Homo sapiens: one gene and its partners. The protein of the gene in region 6 purifies or fractionates together with the protein of the main gene of each other region. This does not show direct contact. Each region holds a gene or a part of one and is shown on either strand. Other genes may lie near its edges. The genes, in order: ELAVL2, PTPRK, TXNDC5, SIRT4, NKAP, ECH1 and TNRC6C.

Region 1 (3,500 bases), on a different chromosome or scaffold from region 6:
CTCTCTCAAAAAGGAAAATTACAAAGGAGGAATCACAGAAAATTTAATGTAACATGTTTCTTCATATTCTAATTTTTCCTACCCCATTCTGGCCTTTATCTTCCAGATGTTTTCTTCCTCTTCTTTCTCTCCCCATAGTTTGCAAGCGAACTTCCCGTAAGTATATCCTCCCCACAACCTTAAGTGTTGTTACCTTAGCATCCCTACAAACCTCCTATAAAGAAGGCCCCTACCACAAATGCAGTAACATTCGGGTCCACTCAGCAATACAGTCACCATTTATATATACCCAAAGGTTACTAAGACAAGGTAGATGCAGGACAGCTTTTCCACCCGCTCACCAAAATGGAAACTCCAGGTCAGCTTCCACAAGAAATGGGAAATTCAAGCGACTCTGGCGAAACGATTCTTGAGAAAACTCTTCAAGGGCAACAAAACAATATTTCAAACAAACAGATTTTACTTGAGGGAATGGGGACATTACACAGCAATTGATATTCGAATGGTTTTAAATGGACTGATTCGCCGTAAGTTTTGAGGCTGAGCTAAATTTTTATGAAGAATTATTAGGAATAGGGCCACTAGAAAATTAAGTTTTAAAAGCGCTTTTGTCCTTGCCGAAGGTATTACATTTTGGCACTTCTAAGAACCGTTCTTTGAGGGAGGGAATAAAGGAGAGTGGACAACTCGTAGCAAATCCTTTTCCCATGTTTTCAGAAAATGTAGAGACGATAGGACTTGAAAATCTTTGTCATAAAGATGGTCTTTAAAAATGCACACAATTCTAAATGACCATCTGGGCAGCTACAACTGCATGCTCATAGCTCGCATCTAGAGGCATGGTTTTACGCTCTGGCCCTGAAGGATAACAAGGAGGCTTTTAAGGAAATGCCGTGAGAAAGACTGCTGGCTAAGCATTGTCACGGCCACTGGAGGAGCACCTGCCAGTGAACCGACGCTGGCTCCCCCAGTCTCACCAGTGCACGCACACTAGTCCGTGCACCCCGGCCGCCGCTGGCAGGCCCTACCAGCCAAGCTGGAGGAGCAGCTGCCGCAACCACGGCAAGCGAACTGAAATCCCAGAGCCGGCCTCGCCCGGCAGAGCGCCCGCGCTTCCCGCGCAGCGCACGCCTCGCGCGCAAACCCGAGATGTGACCGCGAGCTGCGACCTCGCGCGGCTGCGACGGGCCTCACCTAACGCGCACGAGGGGATCATCATTGCTCCTGCCCTGGGCGCCCGCGGCCCTACACCACCTCCGCACACAACGCGGCCGGTGTTAAGTCTCCAAACGCCCCGAGAGCTCCAAGGACCGCGCGCGCGAAGGCGCCGTAGCAAGTGGGCACACACCAGACACCACCCCGGCGTGTTCCGCGGGAGAAGCCAGTGCACACATCCTCCCGCAAGGCGGGGTTGCCAGTGCAACACAGGAATCCTGCCCTTTTTCTAGAAAAGCCCCCTCCCCCACTTTCCCTCCAATACACTCACCTGCGTCTCAACAGTTTCCTTCTTGCGCTACACGCGGCCGCACCCGGGCACGTCCACGCCCGTGCACGCTGCCAGGCGCGACTGTCCCCGCTCGGCTCCCGCCGCCCCCAACCTGCTTGTGCCCACGGGAGGGGCGGTGCCACCTCCCGAGGCGCCCAATTCTCTCTACTCCCGCCGCAACGGGCTGAGCTCTAGGAACTTCGCGGGCACAACCTCCGCCGCCCCCACCAGTGTTCCCGCCCAGAGTTCGGACTAGGGCGCACCACCCCTACCCTGCTAGACGCAGCGGGGGCGCGCACAGACCTTAGCCTCGGCGTCCAAAATGGACCAGGGGCAAGGCGCGGACGCCGTCCCCGCCCCCACGCCCCCAGCACTTGCCTGCTGTGACTCGAAGCTGCAGCTACTACGGCTCGTGCCGCTGGCCGTCAGCACTGCCGCGGAGGAGTCGCTCGGGGCGAGCTCCGCGGAGAGGCGGTGGCGGCGGCGGCGGCGGGAAAGGGGACTGGAAGCCGGCGGAACCCCCGCCCCACCCGCGCCGCGCCGCGCCGCGCCGGCAACCGCCCTCCTCACCCGGCCGGCTACTGCCTCAGTGACGCCCAGGCGCCGCGGTCCCGCCGTTTGTAGCGGGGCGGGAAGGAGGGGCTTGCTTGGAAGAGCGCCAGGAGGCGGGGCCGGCGGCGAGTTCGCGGCGCCGCGGCCGCCGCCGGCGCGTGCCCTGCCCGACCGCCCTTCGGGTCCGTGCCGGCAGGGAGATGCCGGGCTTCAGCAGCTCAGCTCCGTCCCTCCGGACTTCCGAGTCTCACCAGGCTTCCCCGACAAGGTTTCTCTGGACTCGGTGGAGAGCGTTGAGCGCCCAGAGGAGGCTGATTCCAGGTGCAAGTTTGCAAATCCCGAGGCCCGGGGCGCTAACGGGGAGTCAGAGCAGCTAACGTGGGGGTTACTTTATGTGTTCATAAATGTATTTATAAATATATATAAGTATACACACATATGTGTGTCTCTTTTAAAAATTCTCTTTTTCCCCCTACTTCGCAGCCAAGGGGTCCTGTCCCTGGACAGAAAATAAAGGCTTAGCCCCCTGCTGCCCCTCCCTGCCTCTCTAGAGAGAACCTGACGTTTAAATAAGCCCAGAGTACCTGTGCGGGGTGCTGTACTCTGCTTCAAACGCAAAGTAGGAAATCCTGCACTCGACTATGCAAACGCTTGCCGCTAGCCGCATCCTTCTATCGCCCCCCAACTCAAGACCCGAAATGGCCAACTCTTCACCGAGGGGGCGTCCCATCGCTGCCTTGCCTTGGCCCGCCCCTTCGCCAAGCTCAATCCCTTTTCCCCAGAAAAACCTGTGCCTGTCCTCAGACCCGGCCCCACGGCTGGAAGTCAAAACCCACCCCGGAGCCACGCGGCTGGAGCACGTTTTTACACCTGCTCGGCCGCTTAATTACGAGAGCACCTGTAGTTGGGATTTTTTTCATTGCAAAGGCATCGATTTTAGCCCTTCTCCTAAAATACTACATTTAAAAAATCACCTGTCATACCTACCTGAAATTGTAGGAGGTAAGAGAAAGGAACCGAGCAGTGGGCGACCCAGTCGCCGCAAGAACGTGACCGAGGTTACAGCTTCAAGGGCATGATGCAGGTTTGATGCAGCAAGGTCCGCTAAGGGCGTCCAGCGCTCCCCGCCCCCATGCGACGGGCGGAGCGGGGTTGGGGGGAAGGGAGGGGACTCGTCTAACCCAGGGCGGGTGTGGGAGAGGCAAATTTGCCCTCTTGGGCGAAGTCTAATCAGCATAGTGAAGTAGGGGGCTCAACCAAGGTCAAAAGCGAGATAGGCCATCCCTTAATTTGTGCGACCCAGTCTGGGGACACCGGATACAGCTAACTGATTCTATATCAGCATTTCCGTGTCACCCCAAATCCGATTTGCAATTAAATGACCTTAATTGACTTTGTGTGGGTTCCTGGGAAAACTGCTCAAAGCGCCTGCGCCTCTTTGACCTCTCAGTAAATAGTTAAT
Region 2 (3,500 bases), on a different chromosome or scaffold from region 6:
AGTGCTAGGATTATAGGTGTGAGCTGCCACTGAACCCAGACTCAGTTATAATTAATGTGCTTGATCTCATCACATTGTGAGTGACCCAGGTCAAAATCTGTATGACTGCATGAAAAAAAGGCTATAAATACACACTAAATACACACAAATCACCACTCATTTTGACTTGTTATTATTTCTTTTTTTTTTCTGAGACGGAGTCTCGCTCTGTTGCCCATGCTGGAGTGCAGTGGTGCAATCTCGGCTCACTGCAAGCTCCGCCTGCCAGGTTCACGCCATTCTCCTGCCTCAGCCTCCCGAGTAGCTGGGACTACAGGCACCCGCCACCATGCCTGGCTAATTTTTTTTGTCTTTTTAGTAGAGACGGGGTTTCACCGTGTTAGCCAGGATGGTCTCGATCTCCTGACCTCGTGATCCACCCGCCTCGGCCTCCCAAAGTGCTGGGATTGCAGGCATGAGCCACTGCGCCTGGCCTAATTTTTGACTTTTATGATACCTTTCCCCTTTGCTCTTCCCTAAGTCTGAACTTATTTGTCATTTTGGATATAGTAGATATAAATTCATCAATAGAAAAGTGACTATATAATATGTATAATGAAAGAGATACGTATTGTATTTAAAACAGGATCAAAGGTTATAAATTTGACTTGAAAGACCTTCCTTGAAAGGATTCCTAGCGCCCAGAACAAATTGTAGTAAGTCACAAAAGAGGTTTTAGAAATAGTTAATACCTGAAATTCATCCTTGAGATGTGAAGAGTTAGTCTGGGAGTCTATTCTAATCATATCAAAATATGCAGCTTTAAATTCACAGACAGGTATGGCAGTTTCTCCACATAAGCAGGCTTCTAAAATGGCATCATGAATAAAAATGTACTGTTCCTACCAAAAGAATGAAAAAGAAAATTTTGTACTAGTTTTAGTATCACTTTTCTGTCATCAAAGTTAGGAAATACAGAAAATTTTCTCTATATGGAAATATGAATTAAAACACCAATATTTTTCTATATGACTCAGCTAATATTGATTACACATGAAAAACATCTCTTTCGGTTGAGTAGAGTATATATGAGAGACATCTACTCTTTGTTTGCAAAAAAAATAAAAAATAAAAAAAAGTCCACTACAGGTAAATCTACATACCTCTGTCTGGACCATATTAATACGCCGAGATCTTAAGGCTTTGACACAATTGTAAATATCAACAACACCCTCTCTTTCAGCCATGTCTAGCATGATGTCAATCACAATGTAGCAGCCAGTTCGTCCAGCACCAGCACTGAAAAACAATTAAATTTAATGAATTGTAAGAAGCATGTTAGTCTTCATAACCTTAAATAAGGACTTTTTCCACTGTCAGATAGGTAGAATCAAATTGATTTAACAAACTGCAAGGCACAGCACTTGTCCCTGCTGTGTAAAAGCTTATTAATGTACAAATAGCTTCATGCAGAGTATCTGCTTTGGTATAAACTAAAGATTGGAACAAGAGTTCTAAATTATTTTCAAATTGAAAATAACACTGTTTAAGTTCCACACCTCTCTCACAATTTTCATTTTATGTAAATTTAATACACATAATTTCAAGTTCATAGAATTGATCAAGTGGCAGATTCACGCTTCAAAATTTAACTCAAGATTGAATATTTTTAGATTCATCTAGTTGTGTGTCCTCTGGCAACAATGTGAGAATGTTGGCTCACTCACTGTCTTCACCTCTTGTAAATACCAAGGCAAAAGAAAATTAATTCCCAAAACTTTAAACGGGAAATCTGAGGAGCCACGCTTCACAGGAAATGCAAATGGTGGGGGTGGGCAAGAGAATGACGGTTATCAAAGGGGAGGAGAGTAACAGTGTAAAGACTATTTGAATCATGATCTGAAGAGAAATGAAAATGAATTATTAGGTGTAGAATATGATTCCCAGCAAATCAAAAGGCTAGCCGCTATCTTACTGTATTTAATTCTAAAGTTAATTTTTAAAAATACTTTTAAAAAATTATATTTTAGTCTTTAATTGGCAAATAATAATGTATATATTCTTGGGTACATAGTGATATTTTAATACACATAATGTAGAGTGATCAGAAAAGGGTGATTGGCATATGCGTCCTCTCAAACATGTATCATTTATGTTGTGAACATTCAGTATCTTCCTTCTAGCTCTCTCAAACTAAACATTATCATTTACCAGACTCATCCTACAGTGGTACAGAACACTAAAATGTATTCCTCTATCTCACCATATTTTGTGTCCTTTAATTGTAATATACTGTGATTATTTTGCAGCTGGGGAATGTTTCTCCAATTTTATATATAGAAGTCAATGGGGAAAACAAAATAAGGATTTTTTGCGGGGAGTGGGGAATTCACTTTGTAGTCCAGAGATGCTTCAGTGTAGGTGGAAAATGACACTTCTGTTTCAAGAGAGTATCTGAGAATCTTGGAGCATTTCTGAAGCAAGCAATTCATAAGAAAGTAAACCTCTCTGATAAATCAAGAAATTCTTAAGTTGAAAACCTATTTATCTCATTTTCTAAGTGCTTAGATAGGCTAGTAACATTATTTCCTTGTTATTCAGATTTGGTCACTTCTCTTAAACTCACTGTTCTTTTAGAAATTTAAGCAAAAGATATTGTGGCTATCTCTATTTATCTTTGTCCCCTACCATCTTCTCAATCACTGTTCCCAGAGTTGGAGACAGGAATGTAATTTAAGAGTACATCAGATTTCATGAGGAGGATTGAAAGGAAGTTTTTTTTGTTTTCAGGGTACATAGTATCTGATCCTATGGGACGTTTTACCTTTACTTCATTCTCTGCTTTTTTTCCCCTCTTTTATACATGGTTATTTAAATCCTGAATAGGTTGGATTTTCAGAAAGCAAAAAATGCTTAGGTACAACCTATTATGTAGCTTGGAGGGAAGAGCGTATGAGAATGGTGTGCAGCATCATTTAGGAAACGCTTTTCAGATTCAGTACTTATTTTTCTGGTCACACCTCAAAATGAGGCCATGTAATTTGCTTTTAGTATCTCTAAATGCTTGTTTTAAGAGAAGTTTCTAATCAGAAGAAAGTCTGGATATAATGCTCGTGTTTTTTGGCATATATTTGCTGAATCTCACTGATGCAGTTTTCAAGGTCCTCTAATGTGAATTCTTTAAAAAAAATTTTTAAATAGCTGTTTTGCAGCACAAATCCTTGCAATTTAGGCCATTTAGTAACTCTGTATGTCTGAAATTTAGTTTTAAAGCTGGAATTCTATTGGGAATTTTCTAGATTGGCAAGAAATGTCTATTTCAACCTAGCATTCTATACAATATGGGATTTGCAAAAGTGATAAAAACAAAAAACACAGATGTTGCCATTAAAAGGCAGAGTTTCTATACTTTAAATTGTGGATAACACTACACGCATTAGGATGAATGTATGTATTTCTTAAGTTCCTGTTTTATAGACTACTTACAGCCAACTTTTATTTTATTGCTGTTTTACTTTATC
Region 3 (3,500 bases), on a different chromosome or scaffold from region 6:
ATGTCAGCAAACGGGGGTAAAAATACTATTTCAACACCTAAGACCCGTCAGAGAGCAGCTAAGGTGCGGAACTGAAGTACAAGAGGCCTCAGCCCAAGGTCGGGAGAGGACAAGCATTTTTAAGGGTCCAGTGTAACCCAGCCACATGTGCCAGGGATGAAGGGCTTCAGCGTGGTCACCTGGGCTTGTGTCTGCTCACGCCTAGGTCTGCTAGGATCCTCTATGGATATAAACCTAAAAGAATCTCCCATAAAATTTCATACAATAATTAAGTAAGGATACAAGGAATGGGGTAAGACAGTAGACAAGATTATTTTATAATTACTTCCCCGAAATGTTCAATAAATATAAACTGATAATAACATGTATAATTAGTATATATTATCGTAAGCGTTTAAGAGGCAACAGTGAAATATCCATTTAACTGACAACAAAAGTGATTACAATTTACCAAGCATCTGCCCCATGCTAAGCATCACACTAAGCAGTGTACTTTCATCTGCCCAGACACCACACAGTAGATCTTAGCTCAGTTTTGCAAAGGGGGAGACCGAGGCGTGGAGAGGTTTTTCCCAAGGTCAGCCAGCCAGGTCTACCCAACCCCCAAGTTTATGCTTTTGACCATCTCACCATCCCAAGTAGATCATCCTGTTAACCATCATTCAGTCCTAGACACGCAGCATTACTTTTGGATACAAATCAGCCCCATGGCAAGGTAGAAAAATGAGATTTTTAAGAAAGGAAATCTATGCATGGTGTCTGGTGGGTGCTGGAAAGTGTAGAAGAATAAAAGTGATGTCCCTGGAGCTACACTGGATATTTCCAGAAAATCCAGTTACACAGAAGTTGTCAGACACCACTCTTGGCTTCTCTGTATAAAGTAGGAAATGCTGGAAAGAATCCCAGGCACAGTGCAAACTGAGGGAGGGTCTTCTGCGTGCTTGGGGGAGCACAGAGCCAGGGTCCTTTTAGAGAGAGCTCTTGGGTGAGGTCGAACGTGGACGGTCTCCAAGTTCGTCCAGTGAACATTCTACAAGGCTCTACCCCATCTCTTTGCAGAACGGGCTCTGGGGCTGCCAATTCAGATTTGGCCATCTCTTCAAAATAAACAAAGCAGCCGAGGCCATAATTTATCTCTAGGCTGTGGAAAAGCCAGCAAAACTCAAAATCAGACTGCCATCTGTGAAGGTGAAATGAATTATCAAGTGGCACACTAAATGGAATTAATAAATCAAGTTTGCGACTTTGCACACGGAATGAATAATGGGCCACTCTGCTAATTAATCCAGCCCAAAGCAGTCCATTTCCAGTTTAATAAGGGCTTTCACTCACCTTGCCAATCTTGACAGTTTCGGAATGTTCAAGGCCCAGAGCCAGCTGCTCCCAGGTTGGAGCCAGGGCTTTGCAGTGACCACACCACGGAGCGAAGAACTTGATAAAGTGGTCGCCTGGAGTGGAGAGCCAAGGCAGAGACGGGGGAAAGAGGAACTGTAATTTATGTCAGACCTCACTAGAGAGTTAATTGAAGAATCAGATCTTTGTCCTGCTTAGCAAATCTTAGTTCGGCATGAGCACTTTAATTGGTACAAAGGGACTCCATCAAATGTGTTTCTGTTCATGACTTCATAACAATACTCAAAACCAAATTTGTCATCTTTGATGGACAATCAGCAATCAACTCATTATTTGGAAAACTGTAATAAAAGGAAAGAATCAGGCATTTCTCCCACCTCTCCTATATGCACTGTACCGCTGAATAACCAGGTGATAAATGAGGGTGAGTTTCTCTTGGTTAAAAAATGAAGGGACGCTTGAATGAGCCTCGGCACTTGGCAGCCCTAAGGAATGGACGGACCCAGGCTCTGCCTGTCATGGTCGACCACATCCCAAAGAGAGACAACTGGACGTTCTGTGCCCCCACCAGCTATGAGGTCTTCTTGTGCCCCCAAAAAACATCACACTGAAACTGATTTTGTCCCCAGACCCAACTACCAATTTCCAGGAAACAGAGAAATCAGGGAAACATGTAGACCACACTACGGGGACACAATTAGCAAAGTCTGGACCACGGGGAGCTCTACAGGTCAAACCACCTATGTCTTCAGCAAGAAAGATAAAGAGATGTCTGGAGAACATGCAGGTTAAAAGAGCCTTAAAAGATATATAAACACATACACATATAGAACTATAGTGCTCAGGAATGTGCACTTCAGTGCACATAAAGGAGTTGATATGGTTTGGCTGTGTCCCCACCCAAATCTCATCTTGAATTCCCACATGTCGTGGGAGGGACCAGGTAGGAGGTAACTGAGTCACGGGGACAGGTCTTTCCCATGCTGGTCTCGTGATAGTGAATAAGTCTCATGAGATCTGATGGTTTTAAAAACGGGAGTTTCCCTACACAAGCTCTTTTTGCCTGCTGATATCCATATAAGATGTGACTTGCTCCTCCTTGCCTTCCACCATGATTGTGAGGCTTCGCCAGCCACGTGGAACTGTGAGTTCTCCATTAAACCTCTTTCCTTTGTAAATTGCCCAGTCTCGGGTGTGTATTCATCAGCAGTGAAAACGGACTAATACAAGTGGTTTCCACAAATGTCAGGCAAGTGCCTTCTTGGAGAAGGGAGGGCGGGCTGTGCCCTGCATGGGACACGGGAAGCTGGCAGTTTTATTTCTTGAACTGGACAGTAGTTACAGTGTGACCACGCTATAAAAATTCATTAAGCCCTACATTTGTTTTCTCGATCTGTATTATATTTTATCATAAAAAAAAGTTTAAAAAATGAAACATCACCCCCTTGGCTACGGGGAAAAAAACAAACAAACCCTCACAGCATCATTATTTGGACACAGAAGGTGTTTAGCTGTTCTACCCTGACATTGGGCTGATACCAAACTGAAAGCAGGCTGTGGCCGGGGAGAGAACTAACCAGTGGCATGTGGCCTGGCGTCTGAGCAGGACTCTGCCACACTAAGGCTCACAGCTACTGTCTCATCAGCACAGCAACAATGCACTTGAAGAAAATGGTGAAAAACTTCCTTTAAAAGTTAACAACTTCCATTAAAAAATGTGCAAAGCTGAAACCATGTGCAGGTGCACAGTAGATCCTGCACTGTAAGGTGGAGACAGGCTCTCTGGGAACCTAATCAGAGTACTGATGGGAAGCCAGCAAGGGCAGGAAGCCACCATGGTACCTACACGACACAGCTGTGTGGCAGTGACCCACTTAGGGAGGCGCTGGCTAGGCCTGCCGGAGTCGGTCTGTCCTGCCGGAGTCGGTCCGTAACAGGTGATTTGGGAAACACACCCTGCTCAGAGCCCAAGACAATCCCAGCTGAAAATGCATTCCCGTAGCGGAAAGCATGCTAGAGTTCTGCCGTCAGGGCGCTGGTATGGATGAAATAACTTTTAGCAAAAGTGGGAAAAGGCTGAAGGCCTCACGATAAGTTACTGTGGACAGTAAGTGTGGTGGGGGAGGGGCTCTGACTCCCAGCAGGCA
Region 4 (3,500 bases), on a different chromosome or scaffold from region 6:
TAGCCATACTTTCTATTTTATTTTTTTTATTTTTGGAGACAGGGTCTGGCTGTTGCCCAGGCTGGAATGCAGTGGCACGATCTCAGCTCACTGCAGCCTCAACCTCCTGGGCTCAGGTTATCCTCCCACCTCATCCTCCTGAGTGGCAGGGACTGCACTACAAACACGCGCCATCTCGCCCAGCTAATTTTTGTAGTTTTGGTAGAGACGGTGTTTCACTGTGTCGCCCAGGCTGGTCTCAAACTCCTGGCCTCAAGTGATCCTCCCTCCTTGGCCTCCCAAAGTGCTGGGATTACAGGTGTGAGCCACTGCGCCCAGCCCATCAATTTCCTTCCTATACACTCCTTCCTAACCTTCTGCTATAGCTCACTTTTATCCTTAACATGACTGCAAATGCCTTGCCTGCTGATTTCCTTAATGCCCAAACCTGCGTTTTTCCCTCTATACTTTCCCTTGCTCATCTGCTGAATTTGCCACTGTCTATTACCATTCCTTCTAAAATGCTTCTCCTTCTTGGTTTCCAGGACACAGTGTCTCCTGGTTCTCTTCTCACCTCTTTTTTTTTTTTTTTTTTTTTTTTTTTTTGAGAGCAAGTTTCACTCTCATTGCCCAGGTTGGAGTGCAATGGCATGATCTTGGCTCACCGCAACCTCCACCTCCTGGTCTCAAGCGATTCTCCTGCCTCAGCCTCCTGAGTAGCCGGGATTACAGGCAGGCTCTACCACACCCGACTAATTTTTTTTGTATTTTTAGTAGAGACGGGGTTTCTCCATGTTGGTAAGGCTGGTCTCAAACTCCCGACCTCAGGTGATCCGCCTGCCTTGGCCTCCCAAAGTGCTGGGATTACAGGTGTGAGCCACTGCACCTGGCCCCCCTTCTCACCTCTCCAATCACCAGAGCTTGAGCCAGTGAGGGAGAGCACTTTGTGTCTGTTTTTATTTTTTTATTTTATTTTTTATTTTTTTGAGACGGAGTTTCACTCTTGTTGCCCAGGCTGGAGTGCAATGGCGCGATCTTGGCTCACCGCAACCTCTGCCTCCCAGGTTCAAGCAATTCTCCTGCCTCAGCCTCCCGAGTAGCTGGGATTACAGGCATGCACCACCACGCCCGGCTAATTTTGTATTTTTAGTAGAGACGGGGTTTCTCCATGTTGAGGCTGGTCTCGAACTCTTGACCTCAGGTGGTCTGCCCGCCTTGGCCTCCCAAAATGCTGGGATTACAGGCATGAGCCACTGCGCCCGGCCTATTTTTTTTTTTTTTTTTTTTTTTTTTAAGAGACAGGGTCAGGCTGGGCGTGGTGGCTCACGCCTGTAATCCCAACACTTTGGGAGGCCGAGGCGGGCGGATCACGAGGTCAGGAGATCGAGACCATCCTGGCTAACACGGTGAAACCCCATCTCTACTAAAAATACAAAAAATTAGCCGGCCGTGGTGGCGGGCGCCTGTAGTCCCAGCTACTCGGGAGGCTGAGGCAGGAGAATGGCGTGAACCCGGGAGGCGGAGCTTGCAGTGAGCCGAGATAGCACCACTGCACTCCAGCCTGGGCAACGAGCGAGACTCCGTCTCAAAAAAAAAAAAGAGACAGGGTCTTGGCCAGGCGTGGTGGCTCTTACCTGGAGTGCAGTGGCATGATCATAGCTCACTGCAGCCTCGAACTCCTAGGCTCAAGCAATCCTCCTGCCTTAGTCTTCCAAAGTGCTGGGACTACAGGTGTGAGCCACCACAACCAGCCTCATTTTTCTCCTTTTAGTTCTAGTCAGCCATCAGATTATGTTGATTTTCTTCTCTTAAAAGAACCCCTGTGGCCAGGCATGGTGGCTCACACCTTGTAATCCCAGCACTTTGGGAGCGTAAAGCAAGAGAATCGCTTGAGCTCAGGAGTTCCAGACCAGTCTGGGTAGACAGCAAGACGCTCTCTCTACAAAAAAAATTTTTTTGGCTTGTCTTTGTTTTTTGAGACGGGGTCTTGCTCTGTCGCCCAGGCTGGAGTGCAATGGCGCGATCTCGGCTCACTGCAACCTCCGCCTCCTGGGCTTAAGCGATTCTCCTGCCTCAGCCTCCCGAGCAGCTGGGATTACAGGCGCCTGCCACCACGCCCAGCTAATTTTTGTGATCTGCCCACCTCGGCCTCCCAAAGTGCTGAGACTACAGACGTGAGCCACCACGCCTAGCCAAAAAAAATTTTTTAATTAGCTGGAGTTCTAATTACCCAGGAGTTCTAGGTTACAGGGAGTTATGATGGCACCATTGCACTCTAGCCTGGGTGTCAGAACCAGACCCTGTCTAAAAAAGAAAAAAAGGCCAGGCCGGGCACGGTGACTCACACCTGTAATCCCAGCAATTTGGGAGGCCAAGATGGGTGGATCAGTTGAGGTCAGGAGTTTGAGACCCGCCTGGCCAACATGGTGATACCCTGTCTCTACAAAAATACAAAAAAATTAGCCGGGTGTGGTGGTGCACACCTGTAATTCCAGCTACTCAGGAGGTTGAGACAGGAGAATTGCTTGAACCCAGGATGTAGAGGTTACAGTGAGCCAAGATCATGCCATTGTACTCCAGCCTAGGTGACAGAGCAAGACTTCATCTCAAAAAAAAAAAAAAAAAAAGAAAGCGGGCACAGTGGCTCATGCCTGTAATCCCAGCACTTTGGGAGGCCAAGGCAGGCAGATCACCTGAGGTCAGGAGTTTGAGACCAGCCTGGCCCAACACGGTGAAACCCAGTCTCTACCAAAAATACAAAAATTAGCCGGGCATGGTGGTGCATGCCTGTAATCCCAGCTACTCAGGAGGCTGAGGCAGGAGAATCGGTTGAACCCGGGAGGTGGAGGTTGCAGTGAGCCAAGATCTCACCACTGCTCTCCAGCCTAGGCGACAGAGTGAGACTCTGTCTCAAAAAAAAAAAAAAAAGAAAAGAAAAAAAGGCCCCTGTGAAATGTCAAGAAGTCCTGGATTGTTTTAAAATGCTTAAGAAGAGACAGAATGGATAAAGTAGACATGACAAAATCTTGATAAAACCTTGGAATCTGGGTGATGGTATATGAGAATTCATTATACAATTCTCTTTACTTTTGTGAAGTTTGAAATTTTCATTATTAAAAGAACAGATTTTCTTCATGAAAAAAATTGTGAGTTTTTTTTGAGACAGAGTTTCACTCTTGTCGCCCAGGCTGGAGGGCAATGGCACAACAGTCTTGGCTCACCGCAACCTCCGCCTCCCAGGTTCAAGCGATTCTCCTGCCTCAGCCTCCCGAGTAGCTGGGATTACAGGCATGTGCCACCATGCCCGGCTAATTTTTTGTTGTTCTTGTACTTTTAGTAGTGACAGGGTTTCTCCATGTTGGTCAGGCTGGTCTTGACTCCCGACCTCAGGTTATCCACCCGCTTCGGCATCCCAAAGTGCTGAGATGACAGGCATGAGCCACCACGCCCGGCGGAAAAAATTGTTTTAATGAATCCATAAGCATCATTAACTCAAATTCCCTGGATACCACCTTAGTCTA
Region 5 (3,500 bases), on a different chromosome or scaffold from region 6:
CCACATTTTCTCTCAAACAAGAGTAGGAATAACAGTGCTCAGCAGTAGTGTGCTAGGAAGCTCAATGTGAATTGCTTTATCCTAATTAGTGTATTAAACATTGCATTGCACTATGACCTATACAACTAACCCAGAAATGCAGAAATATTTTGAAAGAAAAGAACTGCTGTGAGTATAGATTCACAGTTTACAATTATGGATTAATTTATCCCTACAGGTATTGTCATTACTGGTTCTGGCTCCAGCTGATTCCCTTTCCCTTTTTCCCTTAAAAAATCCAAAGTATGCCAGGCACAGTGGCTCACGCCTACAATCTGAACACTTTGGGAGGCTGAGGCGGGAGGATCACCTGAGATCAGGAGCTTGAGAGCAGCCTGGCCAACATAGCGAAACCCCGTCTCTACTAAAAATACAAAATTAGCCGGGCATGGTGGTGCATGCTTGTAGTCCCAGCTACTCAGGAGGCTGAGGCAGGAGAATCACTTGAACCTGGGAGGCAGAGGTTGCAGTGAGCCGAGATCGTGTCACTGCACTCCAGCCTGGGCGACAGAGTAAGGCTTTGTCTCAAAAAACAAAACAAAACAAAACAAAAAAAAAAAACAAAGTAGGCTGGGTGCAGTGGCTGACGCCTGTAATCTCAGCATTTTTGGAGGTTGAGGCGGGCAGATCACTTGAGATCAGGAGTTCGAGACCATACTGGCCAACATGGCGAAACCCCAGCTCTACTAAAAATACAAAAATTAGTCCGGGCGTGGCGGCAGGCGCCTGTAATCCTGGCTACTTGGGAGGCTGAGGCAGGAGAATCACTTGAATCTGGGAGGTGGAGGTTGCAGTGAGCCAAGATCATGCCACTGCACTCCAGCCTGGGCAACAGAGTGAAACTCAATCACACCACTGTGCTTCAGCCTGGGAGACAGAGTGAGACTCCATCTCAAAAAAACAAAACAAAACAAACAAAAAAAAAATTCTAGACCAGGTGCGGTGGCTCACGCCTGTAATCCCAGCACTTTGGGAGGCTGAGGCAGGTGGATCATGAGGTCAGGAATTTGAGACCAGCCTGACCAACATGGTAAAACCGTATCTCTACTGAAAATACAAAAAAAAATTAGCTGAGTGTGGTGGCGCGTGCCTGTAATCCCAGTTACTCAGGAGGCTGAGGCAGGAGAATCGCTTGAACCTGGGAGGCAGAGGTTGCAGTGAGCCAAGATCACGCCACTAAACTCCAGCCTGGGCAACAGAGCGAGACTCCGTCTCACAAAAAGAAAAAAAAATTCTGCTGGTAAAAAAAGAAAAAAGAGAAAAAAAGGAATAAAAAATTCTGTGAGGATCAAAGAGAAACAGAAATCACACCTACTTGTGGAGGGGAAGTATTGGGAATCAGCATATGCATCTCCTTTTGAAAAGGGCTTCGAAGGATAGTAAGGATTTTAACAGGAAGAAACTGGCGATAGGGAAGAAAACAGAGGGCAGGGAAAAGAAGGGAAGGCATACTGGATGAAGAAATAAGCTGAACATGGCATAAAAGTTGCAAAGTGCACATTAAGCCCAGGGAATATTTAGTAGTCCAGCTCAGCTGGAACCTGGAGTAGAAATAAGGGAATAGAGTCAGATAAGCTTGGCAAGGTAAGTTAGAACCAGACTTTTTGGTAGGTACTTTAGATATTATAAACACACTGCTGCTTACTTCAAAGGTTTATCATCTTGAGAGGTAAGTGTTTTTGGAGCCTCTGGGCCAATTAAATCTGATGGTTCTTCAGCCTCTGCATGAAAGATATTAAGAAACACATTCACATTCTGACTAATTGGTTACTTTAATGTTTCATCTGTTCTGAGTTAGTCTATCAGAAGAACCTACTTGTTCGATCCTTCCAGGGATTTTCCAGAAACTCTTCTTGGGATTCTTTAGAGCTTGAATCACTGGACTCTTTTCTGCTCTTCTTAGACCTCTTTTTCTTATATTTCTTCCTATAGGGATTTTAATTTGATACAAATTCACTTAATCTTCCTATGTTAGAGGGCATCTTAATTTTTCTTTTCTTTTTAAATTTTGAACTGGTGACTATACATCTTAATTTTTCAAGGCAAAGAAAGGTGACAATAAAATGATCTGAATTCCCAGCTTATTCAAACTTACAAGATAATTTTACTTAAAAAAATCTGCTTCTAACTGAACCTGGGAAACAGAGCAAGACCCCGTCTCTATTAAAAAAAAAAAAAAGTAGCTGGGTGTGATGGCACACATCTGTAGTCTAAGCTATTCAGGAGGCTGAGGCGGGAGGATCACTTGAGCCCAGGAGTTCGAGGCTGCAATGAGCTATGATTAGCCCACTGCACTCCAGTCTGGGCAACAGAGCGAGACACTGCCTCTTAAGAATTTTTTTAAAAAGTATTCTAACTTATTTAACCAAATCATCTTTTGCTATAAAAATTATCACTAAAGGAGGCTGGGTGTAGTGTTTCACCCCTGTAATCCCAGCACATTGGAAGACTGAGGCGGGTGGGTCACTTGAGCCCAGGGGTTAGAAACTAGCCCTGGGCAACATGACGAAACCGTGTCTCTACAAAAAATACAAAAATTAGCCAGGTGTGGTGGCACACGCCTGTAGTCCCAGGTATGGGGAAAGTGGGGGCAGAGGTGGGAGGATGGCTTGATCCTGGAAGGTTGAGGTTGTAGTGAGCTGTGATCGTGCCACTGCATTCCAGCCTGGGTGACAGGGTGAGACACGGTCTCAAAAAAAAAAAAATTCACTAAAGGGAACAATGAAATACAGTTCTGATGTTGTAGAAAGACAACAGAAATAAAACAGCCTAAAAAGTCCCAACAATTTGAACATTATGAATAATTTTATGTGTAATGGATTAAAATATGTCAAATATGTTTAAATCCTTGGGTTAATAATACTTTTTAAAAATCCAATTCATTATTTGAAAAGTCATTAAAACAAAAAAAATCAAGCAATTATCCTGCTCTTACAATATAAACTATATTTCAGGGTATCTAAATAGTTGATGAGGGTAAGTTTCTCTTATAGAATCATTCTGCCTAATAAATGAAGGATAAAGCCAGGATTAGACTATCACCATTTTACAACCCCTAATGAAATAATGGATCGAGATAATGACCATCAATGGCTGTTAATATGACAAAAAGTGACAACCAGACATTATTTGCCTCCTGACAGTAAACAGCACCACTTATGAAGTATTCTTGCCCCAACTCAAATCTGAGCCTTCTCAGGCCTCTAGACCTATTAATCTATTGGAAATACAGAGGACAGAACATGCCAAAGAATACCATAAGAATACGGTCACTGCAATTTAGGGACATTATTTGGATCCTGATTGGAATAAACTACAGAAAAAACTGCTGAGAATAGAGGAATTATTATTAAATGTTTTAGGCACAATAATAGCATTCTGGTTATGGGTTTTTGTTTTTTTTTTAAATATAGAGACAGGATCTCGCTATGTTGCCCAGGCTGGTATTGAACTCCTGGGCT
Region 6 (3,500 bases):
CTGTGTTCTAGAAGGACTAAGGAGAATTAGAAAAAGCCCATGAATTATTCAATGATGTCCACCATAACTCAGGGAAAGGAAGAAAATCCTTCTGCCTTCCTCGAGCAGCTATAGGAGGCCTTAAGAAAATATACTCCCCGGTCACCCGAATCACTCAAGGGTCAATTGATTCTAAAAGATAAGTTTATTATCCAATCAGCCGCAGATATCAGGAGAAAGCTCCAAAAGCAAGCCCTGGGCCCTGAACAAAATTTGGAGGCATTATCAAAACCTGGCAACCTCAGTGTTCTATAATAGGGACCAAGAGGAACAGGCCCAAAAGGAAAAGTGAGATTGGAGAAAGGCCGCAGCCTTAGTTATGGCCCTCAGACTAACAAACCTTAGTGGTTCAGAGAGGACAGATAGTAGAGGCCAATCACCCGGTAGGGCTTGTTATCATGCGGTTTACTAGGACACTTTAAAAAAGATTGTCCAATGAGAAACAAGCTGCCCCCTCGTCCATGTCCACTATGCCGAGGCAATCACTGGAAGGTGCACTGCCCCAGCGGACGAAGGTTCCCTAGGTCAGAAGCCCCCAACCAGATGATCCAACAACAGGACAGAGGGTGCCCGGGGCAAGCGCCAGCTCATGTCATCACCCTCACTGAGCCCCGGGTACGTTTAACCATTGAGGGCCAGGAAACTGACTTCCTCCTGGACACTGGCGCGGCCTTCTCAGTGTTAATCTCCTGTCCTGGACGACTGTCCTCAAGGTCTGTTACCATCCGATGAATCCTGGGACAGCCTGTAACCAGGTATTTCTCCCACCTCTCAGTTGTAATTGGGAGACTTTGCTCTTTTCACATGCCTTTCTTATTATGCCTGAAAGTTCCACACCCTTATTAGGCAGGGACATATTAGCCAAGGCTGGAGCTATTATCTACATCAATATGGGGAACAAGTTACCCATTTGTTGTCCCCCTACTTGTGGAGGGAATCAACCCTGAAGTCTGGGCATTGGAAGGACAATTTGGAAGGGCAAAAAATGCCCGCCCATTACAAATCAGGTTAAAAGATCCCACTGCTTTTCCTTATCAAAGGCAATATCCCTTAAAGCCTGAAGCTCATAAACGATTACAGAATATTGTTAAACATTTAAAAGCTCCAGGCTTAGTAAGGAAATGCAGCAGTCCCTACAACACCCCAATTCTAGGAGTACAAAAACTAAATGGTCAGTGGAGACTAGTGCAAGATCTTAGACTCATCAATGAGGCAGTAATTTCTCTATATCCAGCTGTAACCAACACCTATACCCTGCTCTCTCAAATAACAGAGGCAGCAGAATGGTTCACAGTTCTAGACCTCAAGGATGCCTTCTTCTGTATTCCCCTACACTCTGACTCCCAGTTTCTCTTTGCCTTTGAGGATCCCACAGACCACACGTCCCAAATTATGTGGACGGTCTTGCCCCAAGGGTTTAGGGATAGGCCTCATCTGTTTGGTCAGGCACTGGCCCAAGATCTAGGCCACTTCTCAAGTCCAGGCACTCTGGTCCTTCAATATATGGATGATTTACTTTTGGCTCCCAGTTCAGAAGCCTCGAGCCAGCAGGCTACTCTAGATCTCTTGAACTTTCTCGCTAATCAAGGGTACAAGGTGTCTAGGTCAAAGGCCCAGCTTTGCCTACAGCAGGTCAAATATCTAGGCCTAATCTTAGCCAGAGGGACCAGGGCCCTCAGCAAGGATGGAGAGGGAGGACAGGGAGGAGAGGGAGAAGGAGGGGAAGGAGGGGAAGGAGGAAGGGAGGAGAGGGAGGGAGGGGAAGGAGGAAGGGAGGAGAGGGAGGGAGGGGAGGGAGAAAGGGGAGGGAAAGAAAGAAAGGGACCTGGGAATATGTTAATGGACAAAACAGAAAGAAATAGTTTACTGTCTGTCTTCCCCACTGAGTTGGGAACGCCATGACAACAGGGCCTGGGACTGTCCTAGTCAAGACTGGGTTCCCAGCACCAGGCTCTGGGCCCTGTGCAGAAATCAGTGTATGAAATATTTTGCTTCTGGTTCAGTCCTAAAGGGCCAACCCTCCCACGGACAACTACATACGCTGGCTGGACAAGAAACAAACAATTATCTGAAGGCACTGGGCAGATTCTGGAGGGAGTGACCACTTAGGAGAGTGGCAGAACACTCTCTCGGTGTTTTTGAAAATGGTTTTGAAAACTTTCAGCCTGAGGGCAGACTGAAATTGTGCTTGAAGAGCCACAGGATAGAGTCCAAGGTGACCAAAGCTGCCGGGAAGTGAGGGGGGATATTCCAAAGAGGGGAGAGCCAGAGCGAGGAGTCCCGAATTCTGTGTATCAACTCTGCCCTAATCTCTTGCTGGGAGATGTATGTTTTTGTTGTTGTTTTTGTTTTGAGATGGGTTCTTGCACTGTCACCCAGGCTGGGTGCAGTGGCACGACCACAGCTCACTGCAGTTTTGACCTCCCTGGTTCGAGCCATCCTCCCACCTCAGCCTCCAGAGTAGCTGGGAGTGTGGTCATTCATCACACCCAGCTAATTTTTGTTAGAGACAAGGTCTCAGTGTGTTGCCCTGGCTGAAGATTAGTTTTTAAATCTTTTGCTGGGGGTGCATGTATGGTCTGTAAATCAGCAAGAAGCCAGGCACAGTGGTTCACGCTTGTAGTCCCAGCACATTGGGAGGCCGAGTCAGGAGGATCGCTTGAGTTCAAGAGTTGAAGACCAGACTGGGCAACATAGCAAGACCTCATCTCTACAAAAAAATAAAAATAAAAACAGAAAAACCAAAAAAACTAATTCCAACTAAGCTACCAAAACACGAAACTCAACACTCTTTGGAACTATATGATAGAATCCAGAGTATCCACATCTTATTCCTATATCCCAATATCCAAGAAACAATCCAAACTAACTCAAAATACAAAGAAACAGGAAAGTGAAGCCGTTTTCTTTTTTTTGAGACAGAGTCTCGCTCTTGTCACCAAGGCTGGAGTGCAATGGCGTGATGTAGGCTCACTGCAACCTCTGCCTCCTGGGTTCAAGCGATTCTCCTGCCTCAGGCTCTCCAGCAGCTGGGATTACAGGCATGCACCACCACGCCGGGAAAATTTTTGTATTTTTAGTACAGACGGGGTTTCACCATGTTGGCCAGGCTAGTCTTGAACTCCTGACCTCAAGTGATCCACCCACCTCAGCTTCCCAAAGTGCTGGGATTACAGGCATGAGCCACTGAGCCCAGCCTGCCATTTCCAAGCGAAAAGATGATAAGGAGACTGACCCCAAGATGACCCAGATGTTGAGATTAGAAGATAAGGAGTTTTTGTTTTGTTTTTATTTTGTTTTTAGAGGGAGTCTCGCTATGTCACCCAGGCTGGAGTGCAGTGGCGCCATCTCGGCTCACTGCAACCTCTGCCTCCCAGGTTCACGCCATTCTCCTGCCTCAGCCTCCCGAGTAGCTGGGACTAAAGGTGCCCGCCACCATGCCTGGCTAATATTCTTTTTTT
Region 7 (3,500 bases), on a different chromosome or scaffold from region 6:
TGTATCCCAGCTACTTGGGAGGCTGAGGCAGGAGAATCGCTTGAACCTGGGAGGCGGAGGTTGCAATGAGCCAAGATTGTGCCATTGCACTCCAGCCTGGGCATCAAGAGCAAGACTCCGTCTCAAAAAAAAAAAAAAATTTGCTGTAAGCGAAGACTGAAATAGCTTCTATAGGAGAGCTTTAGAATGAAGTCATTTAGAGGAGCAGGCGAATCCTAACCGCATCTCTCTCTTTAGCTGGACTGAACCCAAACATGAATGTCAACAGCATGGACATGACCGGTGGCTTGTCGGTGAAGGACCCATCCCAGTCCCAGTCACGCCTCCCCCAGTGGACGCACCCCAACTCCATGGATAACTTGCCCAGTGCCGCTTCCCCCCTGGAGCAGAACCCTAGCAAGCATGGTACGTCTGAGCTAGGATGCCTGTGGTGGGATCACTGCTGGCTTATTAATCGATCGTCCTGTTGTATAGCATGGCCATTCTATACTTTTCTAAGAATTGAGCACTGAAAGTTGGATTTAAAATAACCCATTCCATTATAGTGCATATAAGATCTCAGCTAGTCACTGATCAAACTTCTTAAAACCCAACCATTAGATCTTAGCTACAAACTTAGAAATAATTTGAAAACCCCAGAGCAGCAAAGAATCTAGGTCATAGCCTGTGTACTTTTTTTATGTATCTATATTCATCAACAAAAACTTGAGTCTGCTGAAATGTTTTCAATAAAATGGTAAAACATAAATAGAAAATCAAATATACAGTATGTATGGGAACTGCAGCTGTAAATACTAGGGTGCATTTCTGTTGGTTATTCCCCTCCATCCAAGCAGTCTGTCTTACTCCAAACTGGTGTCCCCATCGGGAACTCTTTACTGATGGACACACGAGTAAGGTGGAAGCAAAAATGATAACCATAGGAGGTAATCTCACTCTCAAGCATTAAATTTAACTCTGAACTTCCTGGTAGAATAAACAGCAAAGGAAATTCAGTAGGTTACGTAGTTCTCTCTTGATAGGAAGCATTCTAAAAAGAAAAAGGAAACTATGTCTCATGGTTAACTTACGGAAAATCATCACACACTGCTGGCACCTTTCTTAGCAGGAGGGCTCTGCTGCCTGTAGCTGGTTGGTTTGGTTCTGTATGAATTTTTAACATCCACTGTGTTCTTCCGTAGTGAGGGTTTCAGACTAAAAGGAGGGAAGAGATAACAGCAAATTTGATAGCTAATCACAAAGACTCATAAGTTGTCCCCAAAAAGATTTATTAAGGGCAGCTTCCCATGGTATGGATATGTATTTTGTAAAGACTTCTTACTGGACAAACTGAAATTGTTCTTCAAGGGTTTCAATCTTTCAGGGCTGAAATTGTAGCTAACTGAAACAGTCACTGGCCAGGCATGGTGGCTCACACCTGTAGTTCCAGCTACTTGGGAGGCCAAGGTGGGAGGATCGCTTGAGCCCAGGAGGTTGAGCCCTGATCACATCACTACACTCCAGCCTGGGCCACAGAGTGAGAAGTTGTCTCAAAAAAATAAATAAATAAATAAATAAAGTCATTGATTCTTACAGAATCCTAGACAGACCAAGTCTTACAATTCATGTAACTGAATAGGGCAAGGCATTGGACCTAGAACAGAAGGTACATAGGGAGGCTTAGGGTATCTTCTGGTGTCTCTCAACTGGAGAGTATTCACTCGCTTCTTTGTTTCCTATTGTCCCCATAGGTGCTATCCCTGGAGGTCTAAGCATTGGGCCTCCAGGTAAGTCCTCCATTGATGACTCCTATGGCCGGTACGATTTAATCCAGAACAGTGAGTCACCAGCCAGTCCTCCCGTAGCTGTTCCCCATAGCTGGTCACGTGCCAAATCTGACAGTGATAAAATCTCAAATGGCTCTAGCATCAACTGGCCCCCAGGTAAGACCATGCAACACTTCTGTGCAACAGCAGCAGGTCAGAATGTGCTCCAAGCCTGCAGAGAGTGATTAGGCTGAGAGGACCCAGAATCTGAGCTAAGGATCTGGAAGCGTTAAGCCCAGAGCTTTGGCATTTTCCTTGGAAATCCATTTGTCAGATCAATTTTGGGTATGGTTAGCATCAGGCATTTTTCTGTAAACCCTTAGTTCAGCATGAGGAGTGGAAGGGGTGGCAGGGAGGAAGCACACTGCACACTATCCGGTAAAACTATTCCAACCCTGTGTGAAAACTAGCTTAATATGATAGCTGTGATACCTGGTTCTAGTTTGTTCCAAAGGATTGATTGCTTTAATGAAAGAGAGTATAAGGTGTACCTCTAATTTAATTAGCAGATTATAAAAATTTCTACAAACAGGACAAAACATCTTTTAAAATTTCGTGAATCAATGTGCCGGTGTTCTGATCTGTGGCTTCTCATTTTGGTTTCTTAAACAGAATTCCATCCGGGAGTTCCATGGAAAGGACTGCAGAATATTGACCCTGAGAATGACCCTGACGTCACTCCTGGCAGTGTCCCCACTGGGCCTACCATCAACACCACCATCCAGGATGTCAACCGCTACCTCCTCAAGAGTGGAGGTGAGGGTGCTGCTCTTCCTGCCTCTGCATGGACGGTCTCTCTAGACCCATTTGGAGATGTCAGGGGTGACAGGTTGGGCTGTGAGGCAGGGATGATACAAGGCACAGTTGGCGGGCACCTTTTCTAGTCACCTGAAGCAGCATGAAAAGACAGCAGGTAGTGCTTATGGAGAAATGGAAATCAATTTGAGTTTCTGCTGGATTTTTTATTATTATTACTTTTTTTTTTTTTTTGCGATGAAGTCTCACTCTGTCGCCCAGGATGGAGTGCAGTGGCATGATCTCAGCTCTCTGCAATCTCCACCTTCTGGGTTCAAGCGACTCTCCTGCCTCAGCCTCCCAAGTAGCTGGAATTACAGGCATGTGTGCCACCATACCAAGCTAATTTTTGTATTTTTAGTAGAGACAGGGTTTTGCCATGTTGGCCAGGCTGGTCTCGAACTCCTGACCTCAGGTGTCGCCCATGCTGCTGGATTTATTGATAAGTAATGTCTTATCATAGAAGTGCCATCTCTGATAAAGTTTTATCACAGCATGCTATTTTGTGGAAGGAAGAGCTAGATTGCCATAGGTACTATCACTAATAAGGCCACCTAGATAGTTCCCAAAACATTGAATTTCCCACTTGAAATATGACTCATTGGAGCCATGTGTTTTGTGTTTGCTTCTTTTGTTTCTTTTTTTTTTTTTTTTGAGACAGATTCTCGCTCTCTTGCCCAGGCTGGAGTATAGTGGCGTGATCTTGGCTCACTGCAACCTCCGCCTCGCAGGCTCAAGTGATTCTCATGCCTCAGCCTCCCGATTAGCTGGGACTACAGGCGTGCACCACCACACCCAGCTAATTTTTTCTATTTTTAGTAGAGATGGGGTTTCACCATGTTTGCCAGGCTGATCTCGAACTCCTGACCTCAAGTGATCCGCCTGCTTTGGCCTCCCAAA

What was found.
Region 1: the proteins of ECH1 (region 6) and ELAVL2 purify together in Homo sapiens (co-immunoprecipitation; one large-scale study listed by IntAct). This does not show direct contact.
Region 2: the proteins of ECH1 (region 6) and PTPRK fractionate together in Homo sapiens (co-fractionation; one large-scale study listed by BioGRID). This does not show direct contact.
Region 3: the proteins of ECH1 (region 6) and TXNDC5 purify together in Homo sapiens (co-immunoprecipitation; one large-scale study listed by IntAct). This does not show direct contact.
Region 4: the proteins of ECH1 (region 6) and SIRT4 purify together in Homo sapiens (co-immunoprecipitation; one large-scale study listed by IntAct). This does not show direct contact.
Region 5: the proteins of ECH1 (region 6) and NKAP purify together in Homo sapiens (co-immunoprecipitation; one large-scale study listed by IntAct). This does not show direct contact.
Region 7: the proteins of ECH1 (region 6) and TNRC6C purify together in Homo sapiens (co-immunoprecipitation; one large-scale study listed by IntAct). This does not show direct contact.

Annotation. Positions count from the first base shown.
Region 1 is NC_000009.12:23,819,741-23,823,240, forward strand, and holds part of ELAVL2 (ELAV-like protein 2), read right to left. Parts: intron 3,393-3,500; exon of another isoform or gene 3,026-3,392; intron 2,816-3,025; exon of another isoform or gene 2,623-2,815; intron 2,081-2,622; exon of another isoform or gene 1,865-2,080; intron 1,570-1,864; exon of another isoform or gene 1,487-1,569; intron 1,417-1,486; exon of another isoform or gene 1,195-1,416; intron 1-1,194.
Region 2 is NC_000006.12:127,982,100-127,985,599, forward strand, and holds part of PTPRK (receptor-type tyrosine-protein phosphatase kappa isoform b precursor), read right to left. Parts: intron 1,279-3,500; coding exon 1,143-1,278; intron 882-1,142; coding exon 732-881; intron 1-731. UniProt on the Homo sapiens protein: Regulation of processes involving cell contact and adhesion such as growth control, tumor invasion, and metastasis. Negative regulator of EGFR signaling pathway. Forms complexes with beta-catenin and gamma-catenin/plakoglobin.
Region 3 is NC_000006.12:7,890,289-7,893,788, forward strand, and holds part of TXNDC5 (thioredoxin domain-containing protein 5 isoform 1 precursor), read right to left. Parts: intron 1,449-3,500; coding exon 1,333-1,448; intron 1-1,332. UniProt on the Homo sapiens protein: Protein disulfide isomerase of the endoplasmic reticulum lumen involved in the formation of disulfide bonds in proteins. Can reduce insulin disulfide bonds.
Region 4 is NC_000012.12:120,308,821-120,312,320, reverse strand, and holds part of SIRT4 (NAD-dependent protein lipoamidase sirtuin-4, mitochondrial), read right to left. Parts: intron 1-3,500. UniProt on the Homo sapiens protein: Acts as a NAD-dependent protein lipoamidase, biotinylase, deacetylase and ADP-ribosyl transferase. Catalyzes more efficiently removal of lipoyl- and biotinyl- than acetyl-lysine modifications.
Region 5 is NC_000023.11:119,930,252-119,933,751, forward strand, and holds part of NKAP (NF-kappa-B-activating protein), read right to left. Parts: intron 1,966-3,500; coding exon 1,856-1,965; intron 1,761-1,855; coding exon 1,685-1,760; intron 1-1,684. UniProt on the Homo sapiens protein: Acts as a transcriptional repressor. Plays a role as a transcriptional corepressor of the Notch-mediated signaling required for T-cell development. Also involved in the TNF and IL-1 induced NF-kappa-B activation.
Region 6 is NC_000019.10:38,825,295-38,828,794, forward strand, and holds part of ECH1 (delta(3,5)-Delta(2,4)-dienoyl-CoA isomerase, mitochondrial precursor), read right to left. Parts: intron 1-3,500. UniProt on the Homo sapiens protein: Isomerization of 3-trans,5-cis-dienoyl-CoA to 2-trans,4-trans-dienoyl-CoA.
Region 7 is NC_000017.11:78,091,203-78,094,702, forward strand, and holds part of TNRC6C (trinucleotide repeat-containing gene 6C protein), read left to right. Parts: intron 1-237; coding exon 238-405; intron 406-1,730; coding exon 1,731-1,922; intron 1,923-2,417; coding exon 2,418-2,561; intron 2,562-3,500. UniProt on the Homo sapiens protein: Plays a role in RNA-mediated gene silencing by micro-RNAs (miRNAs). Required for miRNA-dependent translational repression of complementary mRNAs by argonaute family proteins.